3 linked regions of the Homo sapiens genome follow. The protein of the gene in region 2 purifies or fractionates together with the protein of the main gene of each other region. This does not show direct contact. Each region holds a gene or a part of one and is shown on either strand. Other genes may lie near its edges.

Evidence for each region.
Region 1: the proteins of NLRP2 (region 2) and TAF13 purify together in Homo sapiens (affinity purification with mass spectrometry; one large-scale study listed by BioGRID and IntAct). This does not show direct contact.
Region 3: the proteins of NLRP2 (region 2) and RBBP6 purify together in Homo sapiens (affinity purification with mass spectrometry, with the first as the bait; one large-scale study listed by BioGRID). This does not show direct contact.

The regions. Positions count from the first base shown.
Region 1 is NC_000001.11:109,069,504-109,073,154, forward strand, and holds part of TAF13 (transcription initiation factor TFIID subunit 13), read right to left. Parts: intron 1-3,651. UniProt on the Homo sapiens protein: The TFIID basal transcription factor complex plays a major role in the initiation of RNA polymerase II (Pol II)-dependent transcription.
Region 2 is NC_000019.10:54,997,335-55,001,750, forward strand, and holds the end of NLRP2 (NACHT, LRR and PYD domains-containing protein 2), read left to right. Parts: coding exon 1-153; intron 154-3,425; coding exon 3,426-3,564; 3' UTR 3,565-3,804; downstream 3,805-4,416. UniProt on the Homo sapiens protein: Suppresses TNF- and CD40-induced NFKB1 activity at the level of the IKK complex, by inhibiting NFKBIA degradation induced by TNF. When associated with PYCARD, activates CASP1, leading to the secretion of mature pro-inflammatory cytokine IL1B.
Region 3 is NC_000016.10:24,556,421-24,560,071, forward strand, and holds part of RBBP6 (E3 ubiquitin-protein ligase RBBP6), read left to right. Parts: coding exon 1-27; intron 28-3,084; coding exon 3,085-3,257; intron 3,258-3,651. UniProt on the Homo sapiens protein: E3 ubiquitin-protein ligase which promotes ubiquitination of YBX1, leading to its degradation by the proteasome.

The sequences.
Region 1 (3,651 bases), on a different chromosome or scaffold from region 2:
GAATATTTTCCATCTGAGGTTGGTTGAATCCATGGATGCAGAACCCATGACATAGAGAGCCGACTGTATAGCATACATAAAATTCAGCAAGCTGTTCACTTAAGACTTGCACAATTTATTGTACCTAAGTTTTTTTTTTTAAAAAAGATACTCATAGAATACTTCTAAAGGAAGAAATGAGTAAATTAAGAATAATTCCTCTATTTAGAAGAAGTAAAAACTAGTAGAAGTACAAAGAGAAGAAAGTAGACCAGGCCTACAGAAGAAAAGGGTGACTTGGAAACCAGCCTGAGATAGACATATCCCTAGGGTTTTACACTGGCAAGAGTCTTTAGGTCCAGAAACAGGAGTAAAAAAACAAACACAGGAGCCAATAGTTCCTATCGTTCTGTTTTGGATTCTGTACTTTTTTTTGCCTTTTTAAAAAAAAGATAATTTTAGATTTACAGCTGAGTTGCAAAAATAGTACAGGGTTCCCATATGCCCTATATCCAGCTTCCCCTTATGTTAACATGTTATACAACCATAGGGAGTCATCAAAGCTAAGAAATTAACATCGGTACAGGTACAGACTTCATTCAGATTTTACAAGTTTTTCCACCAATGTCCTTTTTCTGTTTCAGGTTCCCATACTATTTAGTTGTCATGCCTCCTTAGTTCCCTCGAATCCGATAGTTCCTTGACTTTTTCATCTTTCAAAACCTTGACGCTTTCTTTTTTTATTTTTATTTTTTGAGACGGAGTCTCTCTCTGTCACCAGGCTGGAGTTCAGTGGTGTGATCTCGGCTCACTGCAACCTCTGCCTCCCGGGTTCAAGCGATTCTCCTGCCTCTGCCTCTCAAGTAGCTGGGACTACAGGTGCAGGCCACCACGCCCAGCTAATTTTTCTATTTTTAGTAGAGATGGGTTTTCAACATGTTGGCCAGGCTGGTCTGGATCTGCTGACCTCATGATCCGCCCATCTCAGCCTCCCAAAGTGCTGGGATTATAGGCATGAGCCACCGTGCCCGGCCCTTGAGTAGTGGAATTATAGGCATGCACCACCACGCCGAGCTAATTTTTGTATTTTTATTAGAGACGGGGTTTCGCCATGTTGGCCAGGCTGGTCTTGAACTCCTGACCTCAAGTGATCCTCCCACCTTGGCCTCCCAAAGTGCTGGGATTACAGGCATGAGCCACCGTACCCAGTCCCCCCCAAATTTTTTTTTTAAAGGTTCAGGAGAATAGATCTTTCGTCAGTAACTTCTATGAATATTCAGGTAAGATAAGGAGAAGCCTGAAGATTACAAATTCCTGTCATCACAAAGTAATCTCAGTGGAACAAAGGTCTTTGCTAACAACCGACTGAACATCACTCTGGGATGCTCTGGTACAAGGATCCCCTTCTTATGCTGACCTAATAAGTAAAAACCACATAATGGTATAAGGAGCATCAGAGAAATGAAATAAGAAATGGTCAGCATTAGTGAGGAAACAAAATATGGAAAAGGATTTGGATGTTTAAAAAATAAAACAGTGTCTGGCGGCTCATGCCTGTAATCCTAGCACTTTGGGAGGCTGAGGCAGGAGGATCACTTAAGCCTAGGAGTTTGAGACCAGTCTGGCCAACATGGTGAAACTTGTCTTTACTGAAAATACAAAAATTAGTTGGGTGTGGCCAGGCACGGTGGCTCACGCCTGTAATTCCAGCACTTTGGGAGGCCGAGTGGGGTGGATCACCTGAGGTCAGGAGTTCAACACCAGCCTGGCTAACATGGTGAAACCCGTTTCTACTAAAAATACAAAAAATTAGCCGGGCATGGTGGCACACACCTGTAATCCCAGCTACTTGGGAGGCTGAGGCAGGAGAATTGCTTAAACCTGGGAGGTGGAGGTTGCAGTGAGCCGAGATCACGCCACTGCACTCCAGCCTGGGTGACAGAGCAAGGCTCCATCTCAGGAAAAAAAAAAAAAAAAATTAGCTGGGCATGGTGGCATGCACCTATAGTCCCAGCTATTCAGGAGGCTGAGGTGGGAGGATCACTTGACACCAAGAGTTAAAGGTTGCAGTGAGCTATGATCATGCCACTGTACTCCAGCCCCAGTGACAGAAGAGTGAGACCCTGTCTCTAAGAAAATAAATAAAAATTAAGAAAATAATTTTTCTTAAAAAAGATACACTGACGCTGAAGCTGGGCACGGTGGTTCATGCTTGTAATCCCAGCACTTTGGGAGGCTGAGACGGCGGATCATGAGGTCAAGAGATCAAGACCATCCTGGCCAACATGATGAAACCCTGTCTCTACTAACAATACCAAAATTAGCTAGGCGTCGTGGCATGTGCCTGTAGTCCCAGCTACTCAGGAGGCTGAAGCAGGAGAGTCGCTTGAGCCCAGGAGGCAGAGGCTGCAGTGAGCCAAGATTGCGCCATTACACTCCAGACTGACAACAGTGAGACTCTGTCTCAAAAAGAAAATATATATATATATATATACACACATATATATATATATATATATATATATATATATACACACACATATATATATATATATATATATACACACACATATATATATATATATATATATATACACACACATATATATATATATATATATATATATATATATACACACATATATATATATATATATATATATACTGACCCTGTAGTTTCAAGGGCATTTGGGAACTGCTCACATATAACCCAGCCTAAATAAATCATATTCATAAATCTGTGCGGCCTCATCTCTCAATACTTAGACATAACTTTACATAAAGGACCCAGGACTGGGAGATGGAGAGCACATTTTCATGCTGTGTTCCAGGGCTTGGCCTGGATCATCAGTATTAGTAGCAGCTCTCCCTTCCTCGTGTTGCCAAAAAGGGTCAAAACCGTCTACTGAGGGGGTAGGATGGAGAATCAATACATTATAATCTCCATGTTATTGTTTATTTTATTTGTTTATTTATTTTGGACACAGGGTCTGGTTTCGTCACCAAGGCTGGAGTGCAGTGGTGCAATCTGGGCTCACTGCAACCTCCACCTCCTGGGCTCAAGCCATCCTCTCACCTCAGCCTCCAGAGTAGCTGGAACTACAGGGGCATGCCACCATGCCCTGCTAATTTTTGTATTTTTTGTAGAGAGAGGGTTTCACTATGTTGCCCAGGCTGGTCTTGACCTCCTGGGCTCAAGCAGTCCGCCTGCCTTGACCTCCCGAAGTGCTGGGATTACAGGCGTGAGCCACTGCATCTAGCCTCCATGTCACTATAATGCCTTACACGATTCACCACCTTTTTTTTTTTTTTTTTTAAGACAGAGTCTTGCTGTGTCACCCAGGCTAGAGTGCAGTGGCGCAATCTTGGCTCACTGAAACTTCTGCCACCTGGGTTCAAGCGAGCACGTCTGGTTAATTTTTGTATTTTTAGTAGAGACGGGGTTTCATCATGTTGGCCAGGCTGGTCTCGAACTCCTGACCTCCAGTGATCCACCCGCCTCAGTCTCCCAAAGTGCTGGGATTACAGACGTGAGCCACTGCACCCAGCTGTTCACCACCTTCTTACTTTGTTCAGGGCCTTAGTCCAAAGCCCAAGCCCCAACTCACTTGCTACTCTCCCTCAACACCTGTTGCAGGATCCATTATTACCTGTGGCTTACAGTCAAAGAAG
Region 2 (4,416 bases):
CCCTCCGTTCAGTTGTGAAGACCTCTGCTCTGCCCTCAGCTGCAACCAGAGCCTCGTCACTCTGGACCTGGGTCAGAATCCCTTGGGGTCTAGTGGAGTGAAGATGCTGTTTGAAACCTTGACATGTTCCAGTGGCACCCTCCGGACACTCAGGTATGATCCATTTACTTCCCCATCAGGCTTTCTCCAGAGTGGTAGGTTTAGGGGAAGCATAATGACATGGACCTGCTGTAGGAGACTGATCTGGTAGCTGGATTACAGGTTCCCGCCATCACACCCAGCCAATTTCTGTATTTCACTTGGAGAAACGGGGTTTCACCATGTTGGTCAGGCTGGTCTCAAACTCCTGACCTCAGGTGATCCGCCCGCCTCGGCCTCCCAAAGTGCTGGGATTACAGGCGTGAGCAACCGCACCCGGCCACCTTTTTTTTTTTTTTCCTTTGAGGCAAGAACTCACTATGTTCCCCAGGCTGGAGTCCAGCAGCACAATGATGGCTCGCTGCAGGCTCGCTCCAGCTCCTGGGCTCAAGCAATCCTGCCTCAGTTCCTGAGTAGGTAGGTTTATAAGCATGAACCATTGCACCCAGCCACGGCTGCCGTCTACCTGCTCATGATAGCCATTTGTCACTGGGCTGTGTTTTGTTTGTTGCATTTTGTCAGGGTTTTGGGGTTTTGTTTTGTTTTTTCTTTCTTTTTTTTTTTTTTTTTCTGAGATGGAGTCTCACTCTGTTGCCCAGGCTGGGGTGCAGTGGTTGCTAACTGCAACCTCCACCTCCCAGGTTCCAGCTATTCTCATGCTTCAGCCTCCCAAGTAGCTGGGATTACAGGCATGCACCACCACACCTAGGTAATTTTTGTATTTTTAGTAGAGACAGGGTTTTGCCATGTTGGCCAGGGTGGTCTCAAACTCCTGACCTCCGTGATTTGCCCACCTCAGCATCCCAAAGTGCTGGGATTACAGGCATGAGCCACCGCACCCGGCCTGAGTTGTATTTTGATACCATGGCATCAAAGAACCAAGAAGCCCCTTCCTAGGAATGTGGGAACTTCAGAAATTCTCACAAGCAATATACTCTACTGCTGGCTTAAAATAATCTTTATGTAGAAGAAACATAGATTACTTGTTTATTTAACATGAAACTCAGCCTAAGATACTTTGTAAGTCAAAAGACATATGGACACTAAGGGTTTTTTTAAGCTTTAAGTTTGTTTGTTTGTTTATTTATTATTTATTTTGGAGACAGTTTTACTCTTTTTTTTGGGGTGCATCTTTTTTCTTTTTTTTTTTTTTTTTTCCTTTTTTTTTTTTTTTTTTTTTATTGATCATTCTTGGGTGTTTCTCACAGAGGGGGATTTGGCAGGGTCATAGGACAATAGTGGAGGGAAGGTCAGCAGATAAACAAGTGAACAAAGGTCTCTGGTTTTCCTAGGCAGAGGACCCTGCGGCCTTCCGCAGCGTTTGTGTCCCTGGGTACTTGAGATTAGGGAGTGGTGATGACTCTTAACGAGCGTGCTGCCTTCAGGATCTGTTTAACAAAGCATATCTTGCACCGCCCTTAATCCGTTTAACTCTGAGTGGACACAGCACATGTTTCAGAGAGCACGGGGTTGGGGGTAAGGTCACAGATCAACAGGATCCCAAGGCAGAAGAATTTTTCTTAGTACAGAACAAAATGGGGGGCTGACCCCCCCACCTCCCTCCCGGACAGGGCGGCTGGCCGGTTAGAGGGGCTCCTCACTTCCCATTAGGGGCGGCCGGGCAGAGGCGCCCCTCACCTCCCGGACAGGGCGGCTGGCTGGGCGGGGGGCTGACCCCCCCACCTCCCCGCCCGGCCAGAGTTTTACTCTTGTTGTCCAGCCTGGAGCGCAATGGCGCTATCTCGGCTTACTGCAACCTCCGCCTCCCGGGTTCAAGAGGTTCTCCTCCCTCAGCCTCCCAAGTAGCTGGGACTACAGGCATGTGCCACCACACCTGGCTAATCTTGTATTTTTAATAGAGACAGGGTTTCTCCATATTGGTCAGGCTGGTCTCGAACTCCTGACTTCAGGTGACCCGCCTGCCTCAGCCTCCCAAAGTGCTAAGATTACAGGCGTGAGCCACCATGCCTGGCCTGCATCTCCTCTGTTTAACTGGTACTCCGGGGTCCACTGAGTAGAAGTTGCCAAAGTGGGTGATAGAGCGGGTAAGCAGGTATTAGAGCTATAGCCCAGCTGTACTCAGCAATTCCATTTTCTGTGTATGATAATCAACAAGCATCTCAAACTGCACAATGGCTATATACCATTACAAGGTTAACCTGATGTTATGTTTTTCTCTATCAGATCAACATGGTTGAGAATAAGAGGAATGAAAAAAAGGATTAAAAAGAGAAATGAAAGTCTTTAATATTACATTTTATTATTTACTTCATTTATTTTTTAGACAAAAATCTCACTCTATTGCTCAGGCTGGAGTGCAGGGGCCCGATCTCAGCTCACTGTAACCTCCGCCTCCCAGGTTCAAGTGATTCTCCTGTGTCAGCTTCCTGAGTAGCTGGGATTATAGGGATGCACCATCACACCCAACTAACTTTTATATTTTTAGTAGAGATGGACTTTCACCATCTTGCCTAGGCTGGTCTCAAACTCCTGACCTCAAGTGATCTGCCCACCTCACTCTCCCAAAGTGCTGGCATTACAGGCATGACCCACCACATCTGGCCTCATTTTATATTTAAAAATAAAAAATAAGCAAATCAAGCCAGGTACAGTTTAGGCAACATGGTAAAACCCCAACTCTACTAAAAATACAAAAATTAGCTGAGCATGGTGGCAGGTGCCTGTAGTCCCAGCTACTCGGGAGGCAGAGGATAGGATGGCTTGAACCCAAGAGGCACAGGTTGCAGTGAGCTGAGATGGTACCACTGCACTCCAGCTTGGGCAACAGAGAGACTGTCTTTTTTTTTTTTTTTTTTTTTTTTTTTTTTTTTTTTTTTGAGATCGCCCAGGCTGGAGTACAGTGGCACGATCTCGGCTCACTGCAAGCTCCGCCTCCCGGGTTCACACCATTCTCCTGCCTCAGCCTCCTGAGTAGCTGGGACTACAGGCGTCCGCCACCACGCCCGGCTAATTTTTTGTATTTTTTTAGTAGAGACAGGGTTTCACCGTGTTAGCCAGGATGGTCTTGATCTGCTGACCTCGTGATCCACCCGCCTCAGCCTCCTAAAGTGCTGGGAATTACAGGCGTGAGCCATCACGCCCCACCTGAGACTGTCTTTTAAAAAAAAAAAAAAAAAATCAATGTGGAACACTCCTTTGCCACCTAGAATAATCAGGAAAGGTGACCCATGCCCTGTGCCTCCTTAACAGACTTTCAGGTACTTGGGAATTTGAAACAAATCTCCTTGATGCACAAAGTAACCTTTTCTTCCCCCATTGTACCCCAGGTTGAAAATCGATGACTTTAATGATGAACTCAATAAGCTGCTGGAAGAAATAGAAGAAAAAAACCCACAACTGATTATTGATACTGAGAAACATCATCCCTGGGCAGAAAGGCCTTCTTCTCATGACTTCATGATCTGAATCCCCCCGAGTCATTCATTCTCCATGAAGTCATCGATTTTCCAGGTGTTGGTGAACTGCCTGTGACTCCTCTCCTCCCCGGCCCCTACCCCTCAGGGATAATGAGTTCATTGCTGGGCTAGATGTTTTAGCCATGATTCTGCCTCTGTTTTATACCTGCACACATCCTTATCTTTGTTACATATGAAATATCTGTATCACGGGTATATTGAGAGAAATAAAGGTGAGAGCATTCACAAATGAAGCTGTTACTTAATAATGGGCTTTGACAAGTTAGAGAAAAGATATCTTACTGGGTAGAACCTGGGGGGTGGGGGAAGTGACAGTGTTTAATTGCATTGATTTCTATTGCCTTGTCAATCTTTGCCTTGCCTTGGTATTTCCTTTCTTTTTTCTTTTCTTTTTTTTTTTTTTTTTTTTTAGACTGAGTTTCACTCTGTTGCCCACGCTGGAGTACACTGGCACGATCTCAGCTTACTACAACCTGGCAGGTTCAAGCGATTCTCCTGTCTCAGCCTCCTGAGTAGCTGGGATTACAAGCATCCCCCACCACACCCGGCTAAATTTTTTTGTATTTTTAATAGAGATGAGGTTTCACCATGTTGGCCAGTCTGGTCTCAAACTCCTGACCTCAAGTGATCCACCCACCTCAGCCTCCCAGAGTGCTGGGATTACAGGCATGAGCCACTGTACCCGGCTTTTTTTTTTTTCTTTTTCTTTTTCCTCAAGCATGAGTGTTGCTCTGTTGCCCAGGCTGGAATACAGCAGCATGATGATAGCTCACTGCAGCCTCAAGCTCCCAGGTTCAAGCGATCCTCCAGCCTCAGCCTCCTCAGTAGCTGGGACTACAGG
Region 3 (3,651 bases), on a different chromosome or scaffold from region 2:
AAAATATGCAATACCAACTATAGATGCGTAAGTATGCAAATTAGGTATGACCTGTGGAGACTCCAGTCAGTCCCAGGGTATAGTGTTTTAATCTTGGGCTTGTAACTTTGCTACTTGGATTCCTTGAGAACTTTGTATACCAAAGCCATTAGTCTCTACATCTTGCATTTCTGTGAGGCTGCAGTCTGCTCCATTTAAAGCAAATTTAAAATGGATTTGGGGATTTTTTGTTACCAGTGAGTGCCACTTCCCTTGTAGTCTTCTAATTTTTTCTTTTTCTGTCATTCCCTGCTTTCTTCCTCATTCACATACATACTCCCACATAATCTTATTATATATGCTACTTGCATTTTTAAGTGAACAAAACAGATTGTAATCATTTTGAGAAACAGGAGGCTTAAGAATAAAAGCTCTGCATGATGTTGAGGCAAATTTAAGTGTCAGGCATAAATGAAATACTGAAGTAGCTTGAATAAGTTTGGATATGCCATGTGAGTCTTAAGATTCTCAAGTAAGGTTTATTTTATAAACCACTAGTTCAGATCAACTATAGCTCTATAAAACACCTTAATGCCTTTTTTTTTTTTTTTTTTTTTGAGACCAAGTCTCGCTCTGTCCCTTAGGCTGAAGTGCAGTGGCACAATCTCGGCTAACTGCAAGCTCCACCTCCCAGGTTCACACCATTTTCCTGCCTCAGCCTCCTGAGTAGCTGGGACTACAGGCGCCCGCCACCACGCCCGGCTAATTTTTTGTATTTTTTTAGTAGAGACGGAGTTTCACCGTGTTAGCCTGACCTTGTGCTCCACCCGCCTCGGCCTCTCAAAGTGCTGGGATTACAGGCATGAGCCACCACGTCTGGCCCTTAATGCCCATTTTTAATGTGTATTCAGATTTTATATTATGAACCAGTTTTTAATGAAATGGACAGACATGAAAATTCAGTGGCAGGGTTCAACTAGATAACCTCCCATTTTATCTGCTTTTATTAATGTAGTCAGTTACTTTTTTGATTACCTTCAACAGTTGTGATCTCACATACTATACAGCATAATATTAAGTGTTCTTTGGACTGCTGTTCTCTAACTTTGTTGAGCATAAGAATTTCCTACAAAAGTATGTTAAAAGGCTGGCCAGGTAGAGGGACCTTGGGCAAAAAAAAAAAAGATCCTGGTTGCTCCGCCCCCAATTTTGATTTAGAAGTTATGTGATAAGACCCTGATTCTACATTTTTAACAGGTTGTCCAAGAGATTGTGAAGTTAGGGGATCCTCAGGGCATCAATTTACAGAATTAGGTGTTCATGTTCTCAGTGAAAAAATACATACATATATAAGAACAGTTCCTCAGCTTCATGCTATAAATATTGTTGAAGTGTAGTGTAGTGAGCAGGTGGGGATGATGATGAAAATAGCTATGCCATAGAATGATATTGAAAAGATCTTGTGTTTTTGAATATGTACTTCAGCAAATAGTGTTTTCGTTCACAGATAAGAATGTTTTCCTAAACTCCCAACCCTGCTCACTTCCTCAACTTCACCCCCATCTATTTTTTATCAGTCACCATCCTGTGTTTTTGTGGTTCATCATTGAACAGTCTGTTGTTATGCTGTTTCTAATTCAGAGACATTTCATAGATGTTTCCAAATAACTTTAGCTTGAAATTGATTATTTTTACAGACACAATTAAGAGCAGACCGCTTCATCTATATTATGTAAAATTTTTAAGTAAAAATTTGTGTTGGAAAAATTAGTATCACCTGTAAACCCTAACTAATAATTAACTTCATTGCTTTTGAATGCTGAAATACAAATGCCCAATTGTGCCAGACACACAGCAAATACTGGGGAAAGATGGGAATCTAAATATTTTAAATGAAACTTTCACCCTCTTCACTAACACCACTGATAAGCAACTCAGACTCTTCTTCTGTTTCTTTTTCTATCCTCTGTTCTCCTCTTTTTTTCTTTTTTTTTTTTTTCTTTTTTCTCTCTTTTGGGCAGTGGGAGACTCCTCTTTCACAAATTGGGAACAATGGGGCATAAGCAAATTGATACTTATTTCTGGAATCGTGGTGATGTCTATGGAGCAACTGCAACACAAATAACACACCTAAGGTACCCTACTCTGTACAGCCGAGATTCTTTCATTTTCAGCATTGAGATAAACACACTCTGTTCCTGAATGAAATAGAAAGGGTTTCTCTAGGGATTCCTGTGTTTTGCAAATTTGCCTGATTACAGAGAAGATGGGGGTGTAGAAGCAGTGGTGACAAGTCTGAGAATAGCTATTTTTATTTTTTAATACTATATTTAATGCCCAACATTTCTGCAAAATGCATTTCTACAAAAAACTGGACCTAGAATGTCTAATGAGGTGTTACTTTACATTTTTGTAACACCGATTTTGATCATTTAAGTCACTAATGCTTCTTAATTGACTATAAATTGATTAACCTCTCTTAAAATACTAATAAGTAGATCATGGGTTTTGGTATCTCATTTTATTAATTATTTGTGTGGTAATGACATAATATTTCCCTTGAACTATCTTTCCTTAATTGTATAATGTCAGTACTAATTTTAATTTCCCGTCTTGTGGCATTTACTCCAATACCTTCACAGGTTTGAGAGACTTTTGGGTTATGGAGAAGGGGAGATTTTTTGGGATTTTTAATTTTAATTTTCATTTTTATTTTTTTCAAGAAACTTGATAGAGTAGGAAAAATTGTGATTATGGTGTTGTCTAAATTCAAGTCTTGTCTTTGTCACTTAAATAGAACTTTATGGCACAGAACATTTCGCTTTATTTCTGGCCCTCAGTTCTTAAGAGTGACGGGTTCTAAGATCCTTTTATTGTTTTTGTAGCATTTCTTTGCTTCTTTTTGTTATGCTTGTTTAGACTTTTGTGTCTTTGTTTAGGGTTAGGTTGTACATAATTACTCCCTTATTTTAGAAGATATGGTGCTTGTCTAAACTAATTTGGCATTGCGCTGAATTATGTGTTCCCATTATGTTATAGTAGAACATGTAGCATGAGTACTCTGCCTTCTTAACAATGGTAAAACATGAAAACTTTCTTTTACAGAGAAGCATATGCAATTGGGAAGAAAGAGAAACCTCCCTTCTTACCAGAGGAGCCATCTTCTTCCTCAGAAGAAGATGATCCTATCCCAGATGAATTGTTGTGTCTCATCTGCAAGGATATTATGACTGATGCTGTTGTGATTCCCTGCTGTGGAAACAGTTACTGTGATGAATGTAAGAAGTGCTGAATCTTGGAAGATGTATATTTTAGAATATTTGTATTTACTTGGAATGGCTCTTCCCAACCTCATATGTTTTAATAATAAAATAAATAATGTTGATGACAAGTGTTGATCAATGAGCATTAAGTAGTGAGAAGTCTGTTTTTCTTGCTGTATCTTTTTTAAACAATAACCTGTTTGTCCTTTTAAATTCTAGAATTGACTTCTGTACCTTCATCAGGGTGACTATACTGAGGTGTTTTTCTTAATATAGACTTTTTGTTTCCTGTATGTTTTAAGTGGTATCCAGAATTTTAAAACTTTTTTGGGCCTTAGATAATTCTGGAAATATTTTTAAGTGGTATCTAAATCTTTTTCCTGGATTGTGAATAGCTTATCCTAATATT